Linked DNA regions of Homo sapiens. The protein of the gene in region 1 interacts with the protein of each later gene in a pairwise test. Each region holds a gene or a part of one and is shown on either strand. Other genes may lie near its edges.

Evidence for each region.
Region 2: the proteins of ZDHHC17 (region 1) and SNAP23 interact in binary tests that used the Homo sapiens proteins (3 or more experiments, as listed by UniProt).

What each region holds. Positions count from the first base shown.
Region 1 is NC_000012.12:76,844,079-76,851,114, forward strand, and holds part of ZDHHC17 (palmitoyltransferase ZDHHC17), read left to right. Parts: intron 1-1,630; coding exon 1,631-1,724; intron 1,725-2,517; coding exon 2,518-2,601; intron 2,602-4,154; coding exon 4,155-4,312; intron 4,313-5,297; coding exon 5,298-5,392; intron 5,393-6,768; coding exon 6,769-6,907; 3' UTR 6,908-7,036. UniProt on the Homo sapiens protein: Palmitoyltransferase that catalyzes the addition of palmitate onto various protein substrates and is involved in a variety of cellular processes.
Region 2 is NC_000015.10:42,512,598-42,519,633, forward strand, and holds part of SNAP23 (synaptosomal-associated protein 23), read left to right. Parts: intron 1-357; coding exon 358-399; intron 400-801; coding exon 802-850; intron 851-2,639; coding exon 2,640-2,757; intron 2,758-7,036. UniProt on the Homo sapiens protein: Essential component of the high affinity receptor for the general membrane fusion machinery and an important regulator of transport vesicle docking and fusion.

The DNA.
Region 1 (7,036 bases):
AATACACTGCTGTTCTGTGGAAATATACTGTTCCACAAAGTATGCAGTGCTGATGTACTTGCCATATGGCAAACAAATTATATAGTCATTCAATACAGATAGCAGTTTCATTGTCAAATACATATTTGATGGCAAGAATAAGACTAATTTTGTCATCATAGCATAAATGTTTTATTATATATTATTTATAAGCCACATACTTCTTGTTGTAAAGAAGATTTCCTATTATAAAATCTTGCAGATCAGCAGAGGTAGTTGTCATTATATGGGTATGCTTCACTTTGGTAAGTAGACAAGTCCCTAAGGCTTGTAGATCAGAGCTTTCTTAAAAACGAATTACTTTGTTGATTGCACCCCTGCACTCCAGCCTGGGCCACAGAGTGAAACCCTGTCTCAAAAAAAGAAAAAAGAAAGGATTACTTTGTAAGTGATCCAAGGAACCTTGAGACCAAGTCACACCTTAACCAGTTAGTCTGTTTTTCAGATTTTTGACAGTGTTGCAGCTGAGGGTTGGAAGTGGGGATAGAAGTTGTTTGAATATCCTGCTGCCTTCTCCTAAGTAGATTTAGTCTAACAACTGTGGTGAAGAATAACTTACCCTTTTCTTTATTCCACAGATAATTTTGGTAGATGTAAGAACTGTGTATTCACTGTGCCTTTTCCTTGGTACCTCAAAATAGTGTGTAACTTTATGCAAACTAATGGAGAAATGGCAGTGCTTTTGTTGAAACGCTGAAGTATATTTATAAATTTTTTTCTGGCAAGAGTTAATAACTGCAGCTCTTTTATCATATGTCTAGCATTAGGACTGCCAGCCCTTTGAAGATCACCAATGAGTTCTTGTATTCACTTGGCTGATTTAGAGTAATGTAGGTTTTAAAAACCATTTCAAAATGCTTGAAAAACAGACATCATAAGCATGGATTCTTTATTGCCTGTCAATAGCTGAATAATGAATTATATGGGGTTTTTTTTTTTGCAAGAAATAGTGACTTCTTAAGCATGTTCTGCATTCTTAAATATGGTCATTTCAGCAGGAGAAATGCTGTACCTTAATCTGAGATCTCAGAAGGCACTTTACTGAAGAGAAATAGATGTGTACATATGGGTTTTTGCTGGATTTGTTAATTTGGGGAAGACAAATATTTTATTGATGATTTTGAATTTTAAGAGCTTTTTAAATTCACTTTTAGCCTGACCTTCCTAGTAAGGAATAATTTTATTTTATTGAAAAACACCAATATCATGACCATTAATCATAATGGAACATCATTTAGAAGACTGGAGATTGATATGTTTTTATTACTCAGAAATTTGAGGGATGTGAATTAAACATAGCATCATTCATCAAATCAAATTGGTAATTCTTAGCTTTTGTAAATTGATGGTTCAGTTCCATTCTTAAGAGCATATTTTCTAGAGTAGCCTCATTCTTTTATTCTTTGTTTTTGCAGTTGAAATTTTATTAAACAATAGTGACTTTTGGTTTCATTCATTTGGAAACCTTGATATAATCTTGTTTAAAAAATATAGTTTTATTTTTTTATAATTATATTTTGAGAAAATAAATAGTCAGCTTTTCTCTCTTAGTATAATGCCTTTCATAATCCTTTAACATGCCTATTAACAGATACGAAAACCGGTGAGGTCCAAACATTGTGGTGTGTGCAACCGCTGTATAGCAAAATTTGATCATCATTGCCCATGGGTGGGTAACTGTGTAGGTAAGTTGTATTAGTAATTTCTTCTGTATCATTCATTTAAGTTACTTTAGGTAATGAATAAAGTATAATATTAAAGTAGGCAATAGAAAGTTTATTACTCCACGCTTCATTTTCTCAGTTATCTTCTGGTTGACAACACAGCAACTCAGTTGAGAGAGGGAGGGAAAAAAATTACAAAATTAGTGGCTGATACCTTTTCTCTGTCAGTTCTATCTGGTGCCTACTCTTGATAAGGAGGCAAAATTTTTTTTTTCTAGTTAAACTAGAGAGATGAAGGCGGTAATATTTGAAATGATATTATGTGCAGAGGTAGAGAGGAATGACAGATAAGAACAGTACACACATTAGTGTTCAAGAATGGTATAGTCTAAGGAGAGAAACTACATGGTTTGAGACATGCCCCGGAGATTTTATGAGGTGACAGGAAACATTACAAAGATTGTTTACCTCTGTTGAAGAGAAACCTTTGGATTGTAAAGTTTATAAAAGTAAAGATAAAATAGGGCTATTTTAAACCTCACAAAGAATAGGATTAGAGGTCAGAATTGTGATTTATTTAGTTCTTTGGGACTTGAACACCATTGTCATCATTATATCTTTGTGTGTAATTGCAAGCATTCTTATTTAAGATTTTTATTAAAACATTTTTCCTGAAAACCACTTTATAAAATAATGAATGTATGTGTGATTATCATCAAAACTGTAGCACACCTTTCATGGCATACCCCTCAAAGGTGCATTACCCGTTGTTTTTTTCTTAGCTGAAAAACCTTGCTTCTGTGTCGTTCTTCAGGTGCAGGCAACCATAGATATTTTATGGGCTACCTATTCTTCTTGCTTTTTATGATCTGCTGGATGATTTATGGTTGTATATCTTGTGAGTACAATTAGTTTTCGGTCTTTTTAAAACAAATTTCTGCATACTTAGATTATACTTACCACACTAACAAATTACTATAATGACAAAGGTCGTTTAACTAAAATTATGGTTTGGACACCTTATGAAGCACAAAAGGGAAAAAAGATACAGCTCTATCAATTATGTCCAATATACAGTGTAAGCAAACAGTTAGCAGTTAACCACCTTTTAATACTTGTGTCCTCTGAAAAACATATTGGTTTAATAGGCTTTGAGAAGCTTCTGGGTGAAATACATCAACATTTTCCACATCATGTGCTTGCTTTACTATAGTAGCTTATAGATTAAGTGATTGTCTTAGTTCTGTTTCTTACCAAGCAGTTGGGAAAATATACTTAAAATTAAATTTGCAGAGAATTTGAAATATTTTGAAAAGTAAGGTATAATTATTGCCTATTAGAGAATATTAGTAAATATCAGAAGTTACCTTTTTAAGAATAAGTTGTTATTCCATCATGTGGGTTTTATACCTTAAAGGAAATGATAGATTTTTGTTGCATTGAGAATGCAGTCTGGAAAGAGTTTAAGTGGATACGTCACTTACGATGCCTCAGGGCTTGGTGGTGCTTGGCATAAAGATGTATTAGATCCTCGTTTAAATACAAGTCTTGGAAGGATGATTTTCTAGTCTTCCTGCCCCACAGATAGTAAAAATAATCAGTGTTATTGCCCTAATGAACCAAAGGAGGTTACCACCTCAGTTAAAGATTAATAGGAAGATTTGGTCAAAGAACTTGACCTAATTTCTGGCCCAGCACACCTGAGGAGAATACTTTCTTGCCAACAACAGCAGTATTTTATAGCAACTCTCCTACAGCAGGAGATTTTGTATTAGGAAAGGCCTACCTTGGCTGGGCATGGTGGCTCATTGCCTATAATCCCAAAACTTTGGGAGGCAGAGGCAGGTGGGCCAGTTGAGGCCAGGAGTTTGAGACCAGCCTGGGCAACGTAGGAAGAGAGACCCCATCTCTACAAAAAATACAAAAATTAGCCCGGTGTGGTAGCGCATGCCTGTAGTCCCAGCTACTCAGGTGGCTGAGGTGGGAGGATTGCTTGGGTCCAGGAGGTCGAGGTTGCAGTGAGCCTTGATTGAGCCACTGCACTCCAGCCTGGGTGACAGAGCGAGACCTTGTCTGGAAAAAAAAGCTCATGTCACCATCCTATTATGTTATATGCCCTCTTTCAAAAAAATCTCTTTCATATATCCTCTCATCTTTGTGTAAAGAAAATGTTTTTCTAAGTATTATGTGATGCAATACCAATCAAATAAAATTGTTAATTCTGAAGATACAGTGATTTTTTTTTAAGATTGGCTGCTCCTTTTCCATTTCTGTGTTTTTTCACTGAGATATAATAGGGTTATTTAAGAGTATAAAGACATTTGCTATTGAATGTCATCAGTTAAATCTAGACTGTTTGACTATGTTTTCTAAATGGTGCCAGCACAAATGCCTATATGAGGTGCTTGGATGATTATTGAGTAAATACGAGTACTTCTGTTCTGGCTTTAGACTGGGGACTCCACTGTGAGACCACTTACACCAAGGATGGATTTTGGACATACATTACTCAGATTGCCACGTGTTCACCTTGGATGTTTTGGATGTTCCTGAACAGTGTTTTCCACTTCATGTGGGTGGCTGTATTACTCATGTGTCAGATGTACCAGGTATGTGCAAAGGCATTCTTTTTAGTGCACTAAGTGAAAACTCTTCCATCCTTGCATAAAAGATAATAATATATTCTCTTCCTAACCACTCCTGCTCTTCAAATATTCATTTTATTTTTCAATTTAGTTTTCCTTTCTACCTCACTCTTTTGCCCCTTCCTCTTCTCATATTGTGAACTTTTGAATTTTAGTACTTATCTCAACAGAAATTTTAATCTGTTATTCCTGACTTAAATACATCCAGTTGAGTATGTGTGAGCTCAGATTGATGATGACATTAATTTTGTGTTTTTAATGGTATTTTTATTCACAAATACTAATATTTATTCAAAAGCCTTTTTTTAATTTTTAAAAGCTCATTCTCAGAGAGGCTGATAGGGAGGTTGTCTGTGCAGGAATAGCGCCTGTCCATGCACAGTGTCAAGTAACCTGTCTTTAAATATTTTCCACATTTAACTGGCTACTTTTCACAGTCAAATGATACCACGTAAACTAGTTCTGATGATCTCCTGATGGAAAACCAAAAACAGACTTCATTGTTTTTATCTTTATCCTAGTTTTCTTCAAATTAATTTTTTTATATTAAGTATTTAGAAAGAATAATGGTTTGTGCAGCCTGGCATGGTGGCTCACACCTGTAATCCCAGCACTTGGAAGCCGAGGTGGGCGGATCACTTGAGCCCAGGAGTTTGAGATCAGCCTGGGCAACATGGTTAAACCCTATCTCTAAAAAAAAAAAAAAAAAAAAAAACCCAACAAAAAAAAGAAAATTAGCCGGGCATGGTGCATGCGCCTGTAATCCCAGCTGCTGGTGGGGTGGGGGTTTTGGGGTGGGGGGAGGTGGCGGGGGTGGAATCACTTGAGCCCACCCAAGAGGGAGCTGAGAATTCGCCATTGCATTTTAGCCTGGGTGACAGGGCAAGGTCCTGTCTCAAAAAAAAAAAAAAAAAACAAGAATAATGGTTTGCTTTTTCTTTCCTCTTAGATATCATGTTTAGGTATTACTACAAATGAAAGAATGAATGCCAGGAGATACAAGCACTTTAAAGTCACAACAACGTCTATTGAAAGCCCATTCAAGTATGTACATATTTATAAATTTAATATTTTACCTGGTCATAAAAATTTTCTTACTAACCAGACTCTTTTACTTAGTGATATGTAAAATAGCTTTTAAACCTTTTTAAGATTTCTGTAGAAATAGCATCAGTTCACCATAATAACAACAAAACAGAATTCATCACATTAACTGTATATAATAAAGTTGTGATATCTCCTTATATTTTTTTCTTTTTAATTTTAAATTTGTATTCAGTCTGGTGCTTAGAAATAGTAGGGTCCTAAGTATATGAAATATTTAAAACTTTGAGTTTTACTGAAGTTATTACCAACTCTTCAGCTTTTGTGGTGCTGTCAATTATGGCATACTTCTGGAAAGCAAGCAGACCTTTAAATAAAAACAGAGTTAGTTGGGTAGTTTTGAGAATTCTCCCATAGGTACAAAAATTATATAAGGCACAAAACTGACTGCTTTTCTTTTCTTTTTTTTAGACAGAGTCTTGCTCTGTCACCCAGGCTGGAGTGCAGTGGCATGATCTCGGCTCACTGCTACCTCCACCTCCTGGGTTTAAGCACTTCTCTGCCTCAGCCTCCTGAGTAGCTGGGATTACAGGCATGCACCACGCCCAGCTAGTTTTTGTATTTTTAGTAGAGATGGGGTTTCACCATCTTGGCCAGGCTGGTCCTGAACTCCTGACCTCATGATCCACCCGCCTCGGCCTCCCAAAGTGCTAGGATTACTTACCGACGTGAACCACTGGTGCGCACCTGGCCAAAACTGACTGCTTTTCTAAAGGTGTTACTGGAGTACTAAAATTTCATGAACTTATCCTTGACATTTCTTTTTTAAGTTGTTATCCTTAGGTTCACTGCCAGATTCATGCTATTTATAATTATTTTGTCTTTTACTTTTTTTCTGTTTTAGAGATAGTTTGTCTCCTGCCAAAGAGCCACTAATTAAAGGTTTTTATCAAAAATTACATATGGAGCCAGGCATGTTGGTGCATGTCTGTAGTCCTAGCTACTTGGGAGGCTGAGGTGAGAGGATTGCTTGAGCCCAGAGTTCGAGGCCAGGCCGGGCAACATAGTTAAGACCTCATCTCTAAAAATAAAAATAAAAATGCATATAACACAGAAAGTATATGCACATTTGAATAAATTTAAAATATAATTGTGTAAGTCTTTAAATTGGCAAAAGAAAAAATCATTGTTGGCAGAGCAGTGGAGAAACATGAAGGCATATATATTTTATAGAGTTATGAATTGGTTCCTTCTTGCAAGTAACCTGAGTTTTTAAGTTTAGAAAAAAATATATTTAACACGAAAATTATATTGAATTCATGTATTAAATCATTTGTACTGACTGACGTGTTTTCTTTTTGGGGTGCTGTTTTTAGCCATGGATGTGTAAGAAATATTATAGACTTCTTTGAATTTCGATGCTGTGGCCTCTTTCGTCCTGTTATCGTGGACTGGACCAGGCAGTATACAATAGAATATGACCAAATATCAGGATCTGGGTACCAGCTGGTGTAGCGACATCTTATCCTATGAAGCATATTGCTGAGTGGTGCCTGAAAATTGTGTCTGTCCGTGTCTTTCTCACACTCGAATCCACATCCTTTGAACAAGAGCATGCTATGTGTAGGGCTAATGGTGAATTTT
Region 2 (7,036 bases), on another chromosome or scaffold:
CAAACTTCTGACCTCGTGATCCGCCCACCTCAGCCTCCCAAAGTGCTGGGATTATAGGCTTGAACCACCACACCCGGCCATTGTTTTGTTTTAAAGGGAAGGATAGGCTGGCAATTCTTTTTGTTTTTTCCTTTAATGGAAACAGTCTCACTATGTTGTCTGGGCTGGTCTTGAGCTCCGGTACTCAAGAAATCCTCCTGCCTCGGCCTCCCAAAGTGCTGGGATTATAGGCATGAGCCACTGTGCCCGGCCTGAGCTGGCAATTTTTAAAGATAGAATAGCATCATGAATTTGGCCTGTGATCAGATTTTTTTTTCTACATATTTTGGAATGCTAAAATTCTGTGTTCTTTCCTAGTCTCTGGAAAGTACGAGGAGAATCCTGGGTTTAGCCATTGAGGTAAGAAAATGTTAGTCATCAACTTAAGTATAGAAATTTATAGGAGCGATCCTAATACTTCTGGCTGGAATTAGTATTAAAGGGTAATGTATCAATATGCTTTATTATTTGAAATTAACAGTTGCTGAAATGTCAAACCATGCACTAATGGGAATTTTCTGTTTTTCCCTTTAACAGTATTGGAATATGACAGGGAAGATGAATTCACTATGAGTTTGTGACTTAATTATTTTGGGGGCTGCTATGTTAAAGTGTGTTAGTTTAAGAATACTAGTTCTGTCTGTAGCTCTAATCCTCTGAGAGCTTGGGTTTCTAAATTATTCTGTGTTGCTCTTGTAGGTTTTGTTTCTGTTGTTTTTGGTTTGTTTTGTTGTACTATCAGCTTTTCCCCCCTTGTCTTAGTCTCAGGATGCAGGAATCAAGACCATCACTATGCTGGATGAACAAAAGGGTAAGTTAAATTATTAGCAGAAATTCTTAATTTGACTGTGATGCCAAAAAGCCCTATCAAATTAGCCACATACAAATTTCAGCCTTTGGGAGAGCCTTCCCTTTGTAAAATAAGAATGTTATGTTTACTTCTTGTCTTCTGATTTGAATTATATATCATGTTCACTGTCTATTTGGGATGGCAGGCAACAATGCCCAATTGTATATACCAAGTATGTGTTAGGCCAGCATGGCTTATTTTGTGTATTGGTTATATGTGCCTTAGACATTATGATAGTAACATAGCTGGGATTACAGGCACCTGCCACCACACCCAACTATGTTTTTCTTTTTTTTTGGGGTGGGGGACGGAGTTTCGCTATTTTTGTCTAGTTTTGGGGGTGGGGGATGAAGTTTCGCTCTTCTTGCCCAGGCTGGAGTGCAATGGCGTGATCTTGGCTCACTGCAACCTCCTCCTCCTGGGTTCAAGTGATTCTCCTGCCTCAGCTTCCTGAGTAGCTGAGATTACTGGTGCCCACCACCACACCCGGCTAAGTTTTTGTATTTTTAGTAGAGACGGGGTTTTACCATGTTGGCCAGGCTGGTCTCGAACTCCTAACCTCAGGTGATCCACCCGCCTTGACCTCCCAAAGTGCTGGGATTACAGGTGTGAGCCACCGTGCCGGGCCTTTTGTTTTGTTTTGTTTTGTTTTTTTAATTTTTATTTTTTGAGTCGGAGTCTTACTCTGTCACCCAGGCTCGAGTGCAGTGGTGCAATCGTGGCTTACTCCAGGATCCTCTACCTCCCACGTTCAAGTGATTCTCCTGGCTCAGCCTCCTGAGTTGCTGGGATTACAGGTGTCCACCACCACACCCAGCTAATTTTTTGTGTTTTTAGTAGAGATAGGGTTTCACCATGTTGGCCAGGTTGATGTCGAACTCTTGACTTCAAGAGTCACTTGATCCGCCCACGTCGGCCTCCCGAAGTGCTGGGATTATAGGCGTGAGCCACCGTGTCTGGCCAGACATTGTGATATTCTTACATCATCCTCAGAAATCAAGTTCTAAAACAGATCTAGATTCAGGTATGCTTGGAAACACTTGAGTTGAGTTGGCCCTGAGTAATCAGGTCTAGTTTTTATTACTCTTATAATAGCCCTCAGGTTTTGAACCTATTATAGAAATGATGGGGATTTGACCTCGTCAAAGTACCCTTAACTTGGTTGTAAGGATGATCTCTAAATAACCGTCCCTTGGTCCTACTATACAAGATTCTTTTTTTTTTTTTTTTTTTCGAGCGGGAGTCCCACTCTGTCATCCAGGCTGGAGTTCAGTGGTGCAATCGCAGCTCACTGCAACCTCCAACTGCCGGGTTCAAGCAATTCTCCTGCCTCAGCCTCCCAGGTAGCTAGGATTACGGCACCCATCACCACACCCAGCTAATTTTTGTATTTTTAGTAGAGATGGGGTTTCACCATGTTGGCCAGGCTGGTCTTGAATTCCTGACCTCAGGTCATCGCCCACCTCGGCCTCCCAAAGTGCTGGGATCACAGGCGTGAGCCACCATACCCAGCCATATACAAGCTTTTTAGAACAAATTTTTCCACAGCAAGAGGCTAGGTGCCTCCGGATCAGTACGTGAAAGATTGTTATCATGTTGAATCGCTTCTAATACCTTTTGACACTGACATACTCACTGTGGGGAGTTATTGGTAGATTCAAGGTTGAAGTTTGCTGTTCCATAATAATAGCATTTTCTGGTTGACACTGTGAATGGAACACAAAGTGTTAACTTCACAACTTATTCTTAGAACAACTAAACCGCATAGAAGAAGGCTTGGACCAAATAAATAAGGACATGAGAGAGACAGAGAAGACTTTAACAGAACTCAACAAATGCTGTGGCCTTTGTGTCTGCCCATGTAATAGGTGAGTTGATAAATTAAGATGGTTTCAAAATAAGTAATGAGAGTACCCCACCTTCTCCCACCAGCTAAGGTCAGAAGTATGACTGGGCTTAATGAGGAACTCTATTAGATAAATCTAAGTTGTCTCTCCTTCAGGCAGATTAAGCTTTTTGTGTAAATACTGCGTGTTCACTGAAAACTGTGACTTACATTTGACCAATCCTGGGATCAAGTCCAATTTCAATTTGTAGTAATACATGAAAAGGTTAGGAAGTATAGGGAAATGTATATCTGGATGATGGAAAGCAGGATGGAGTTATTTTCTTTTCCTTTCAAAGGAGGAGTATTAACAAAATATATATTTTGTGGTAGGCACATGAGGGATGGCCAAAAGAGTAGAAGAGTTGGGAAAGAATGGCAAAACATAAAAAATACATAAATCTAATGTTAGATTATATGATAGTGAGCAAGGCTAAATCTAATGTTAGATTATATGATAGTGACCAAGGCTAGGTATACAGAACTGATAAAGGTTGGGTTGGAGAGCATCTTATAGAAGAGGTAGGATGTGGATTGGGCTTTGAGTGATAAGAAGGATTTGGATGAACAGGGAGGAACAGTGAGGGCATTTCCTATGAAAGGTTCAAAATAAAGATTAACAAGGAGCTTGACTTAACTGAGCTGTGTGACTCATGTAGATGAGAAGTGGAAAGTAAGATATAAGTAGGTAGTAGAGGAACTTGAATGCCAAACTAAGGAGTTGACAGATTGGAGTGGAGTATAAAAAGAAACGACAGTATCTGGAGATTGAATGACTGTACTCACTGCTGAAAGTTTTGTTTTGTTTTTTTTCTGAGACAGGGTCTCTGTTACTGAGGCTGGAATGCAGTGGCGTGATCACAGCTCACTGCAGCCTCTCTTTCCTGGGCACAAGAGATCCTCCCACCTTGGCCTCCCAAAGTGCTAGGATTACAGGCATGAGCCACTGCACACAGCCAAAGTATCCTTTTTTTTTTGAGACGGAGTCTCACTCTGTTACCAGGCTGGAATGCAGTGGCGCAGTCTCAGCTCACTGCAACCTCCGTCTCCTGGGTTCAAGTGATTTCTCCTGCCTCAGCCTCCCGAGTAGCTGGGACTACAGGCGCATGCCACCACACCCAGCTAATTTTTGTATTTTTAGTAGAGACGGGGTTTCACTATGTTGGCCAGGATGGTCTTGATCTCTTGACCTCATGATCCGCCCGCCTTAACCTCCTCAAGTGCTGGGATTACAGGTGTGAGCCACCACACCCGGCCTCAATGTATTCATTTTTAAAGAGGTTCTTAGACATTAATATTTCATCCAGTTCTCAGCTGGTCTTGTAAACCAACAGCGGTTATATTTTTATATTTTCAGTAAGTGTTTTTATGAAACAACATTTTTATGCCATTTCTGTTATAGAAAGTAGAGATTAATTGCTTGTCAGTCAACTTTAGTGTTTGTTTTGGCCATGAGGAAAGGTTTGACAGTGTTCTTCCTAGTCTTATCCATTGGCTTCCTATTCTAACACAAGTCTGTTGACCTGTTTACACCTTGGTTGACCAACTGAAAGTTCTGTATTTTTTGAGACGGAGTCTCGCTCTGTCACCCAGGCTGGAGTGCAGTGGTGTGATCTCGGCTCACTGCAACTTCCACCTCACGGGTTCAAGTGATTCTCCTGCCTCAGCCTCCCAAGTAGCTGGGATTACAAATATGTGCCACCATACTCAGCTAATTTTTATATTTTTAGTAGAGACAGGGTTTCGCCGTGTTGGCCAGGCTGGTCTCAAACTCCTAACCTCAGGTGATCTGCCCGCCTCTGCCTCCCAAAGTGCGGGGATTACATGCGTGAGCCACTGCTCCCGGCCAAAAGTTCATATTTTAATAACTATGACTTGTCAATCAGAGTTTAGCAGATTACTTTAAGCAAACAAGTTAAAATGTACAGATTATTTGATACAAACTCTTAGCTATGTTTTACAAACATAATTGTACCTTTCTCTTGTGTTCCATGTACCTTCTTGGAAGAGTACAGAAGAGAGGAAGTAGATGAATTTTCTTGAGATCAGATGTTAGGAGAACAAGGAGAAAGAAGTCTCCCCTAAAATCTTAGAGGAAGATCAGCTCTAAGTCACGTGTTGATAAATAGGAAGAGCACTGAATTAGACCTAAGATGGTCTAATATCATAGAAAGTGGGAAATGCAGCTACAGAGTATTAATTTTATGTCTCTTTGTGTATCCCAGCCAAGCATAGGCAAGCTTTTCTTGAAGACTGGTGGGAAACAAGGTAGGGTATGGTCCTGAATCAGCATTCTTCAGCCTCTAACCTCAGTAGAACCCTTTCTCAGTGGATCAAGAGAAGGCATTACTTTTTTAGAGATGGCCTCTCCCTCTGTCTCCCGGGCTTGAATGCAGTGGTGCCACCATAGCTCACTGTAGCCTCAAACATCTGGGCTCAAGCAATCCACCCACATCAGCCTCCCAAGTAGCTAGGATTACAGGTGTGTGCCACCATGCCCAGCTAATTTTTGAAATTTTTTGTAGAGACAGGGGTCTTGCTATGTTGCCCAGGCTTGTATCAAACTCCTGGCCTCAAGAAATCCTCCCACTTCAGCCTCCCAAAGCACTGGGATTACAGGCTTAAGCCACTGCACCCAACTGGCACTTCTTTCTTTTTTTTTTTCTGGCACTTCTTGAGAGATGGAATCAAGGGGCTGCTGTAACAAAACAGTTCCCTTAAGAGAAGAAAGTATTATCTCAGTTAAAGATGTCTGATTGTAATTGTCTTTCTTCCACCTATTTCTTTCTTACACCATTGAGACCTTGGCCAGTATGATATCTCTTATCCTCAGCTCTGTTCCTATCATTCTTGCCTGTGTCTTGATCTTTCTAATCTGCTAGTCTGTGTTTCAGTTAGGCTCGTCACATGAATAACCATAACATGAGCTTCTTAAAGGTAGACATGAGATCTTAGTCCTATGTGTAAGGCCTAGTCTTCATACCAGCAGTAGCAGTAACAACCCAGGTCAGGTCCAGAGTTCCTTATTTGCCATTTGGAAATACTTTTTCTTTTCTTTCTCTTTTTTTTTTTTTTTTTTCTCGAGACAGGGTCTCGCTCTGTTACCCAGGCTGGAGTGCAGTGGCAGTCATGGCTCACTGCAGCCTCAACCTATCCTCCAGCGTCAGCCTCCTGAGTAGCTGGGATTACAGGCACATGCCACCACACCCAGCTAATTTTGTATCTTTTGTAGAGACAAGGTTTCACCATGTTGGCCAGGCTGGTCTTGAACCCTTGGGCTCAGGCAGTCTACCCACCTTGGCCTCCAGAAGTGCTGGGATTGCAGGCATGAGCCATTAAGCCCTGCTGGCCATTCAGAAATCTAAAAAACTCCTAAAGTTTTGTTTTATTTTTGCTGTAATGGTGCCACAACTCATTAGGGTATAAAATGTAACCTGAACTGAAGCTATGTTTAGTCTTTATTACTTGCTGTAGATATTAATTGGTTTCACTACAGAAATACTCTTTTTGAGTCAGGGTCTCACTCTGTCACCCAGGTTGGAGTACAGTGGTATGATCTTGGCTCACTGCAGCCTCGACCTCCTAGGTTCAAGTGATCCCCCCACCTCAGCCTCATGAGTAGCTGGGACTACAGGTGCATGTCACCATGCCTGGTTTGTTTTTAAAAACTTTTGTTTCTTCTTCTTTTTTTTTTTTTTTTTGAGACGGAGTCTCACTCTGTTGCCCAGGCTAGAGTGCAGTGATGCAGTCTCAGTTCACTGCAACCTCTGCCTCCTAGGTTCAACCGATTCTCCTGCCTCAGCCTCCCAAATAGCTGGGATTACTGGTGCCTGCCACCACGCCCAGCTAATTTTTGTATTTTTAGTAGAGATGGGGGTTCACCATGTTGGCCAGGCTGGTCTTGAACTCCTGACCTCAGGTGATCCGCCTGCCTCGGCCTCCCAAAGTGCTGGGATTACAAGCATGAGCCACCATGCCTGACCCTGTTTCTTTTCTTTTCTTTTTCTTTTTTTTTTTTGAGACAGAGTTTTACGTTGTCACCCAGACTGGAGTGCAGTGGTACAATCTCGGCTCACTGCAACCTTCGCTTCCTGGGTTCAATCGATTCTCATGCCTCAACCACCCAAGTAGCTGGGATTAGAGGCATGCACCAACACCTTGCTAACTAATGTATTTTTAGTAGAGACGGGGTTTTGCCATGTTGGCCAGGATGGTCTTGAACTCCTGACCTCAAGTGATCCACCCACCTCGGCCTCCCAACG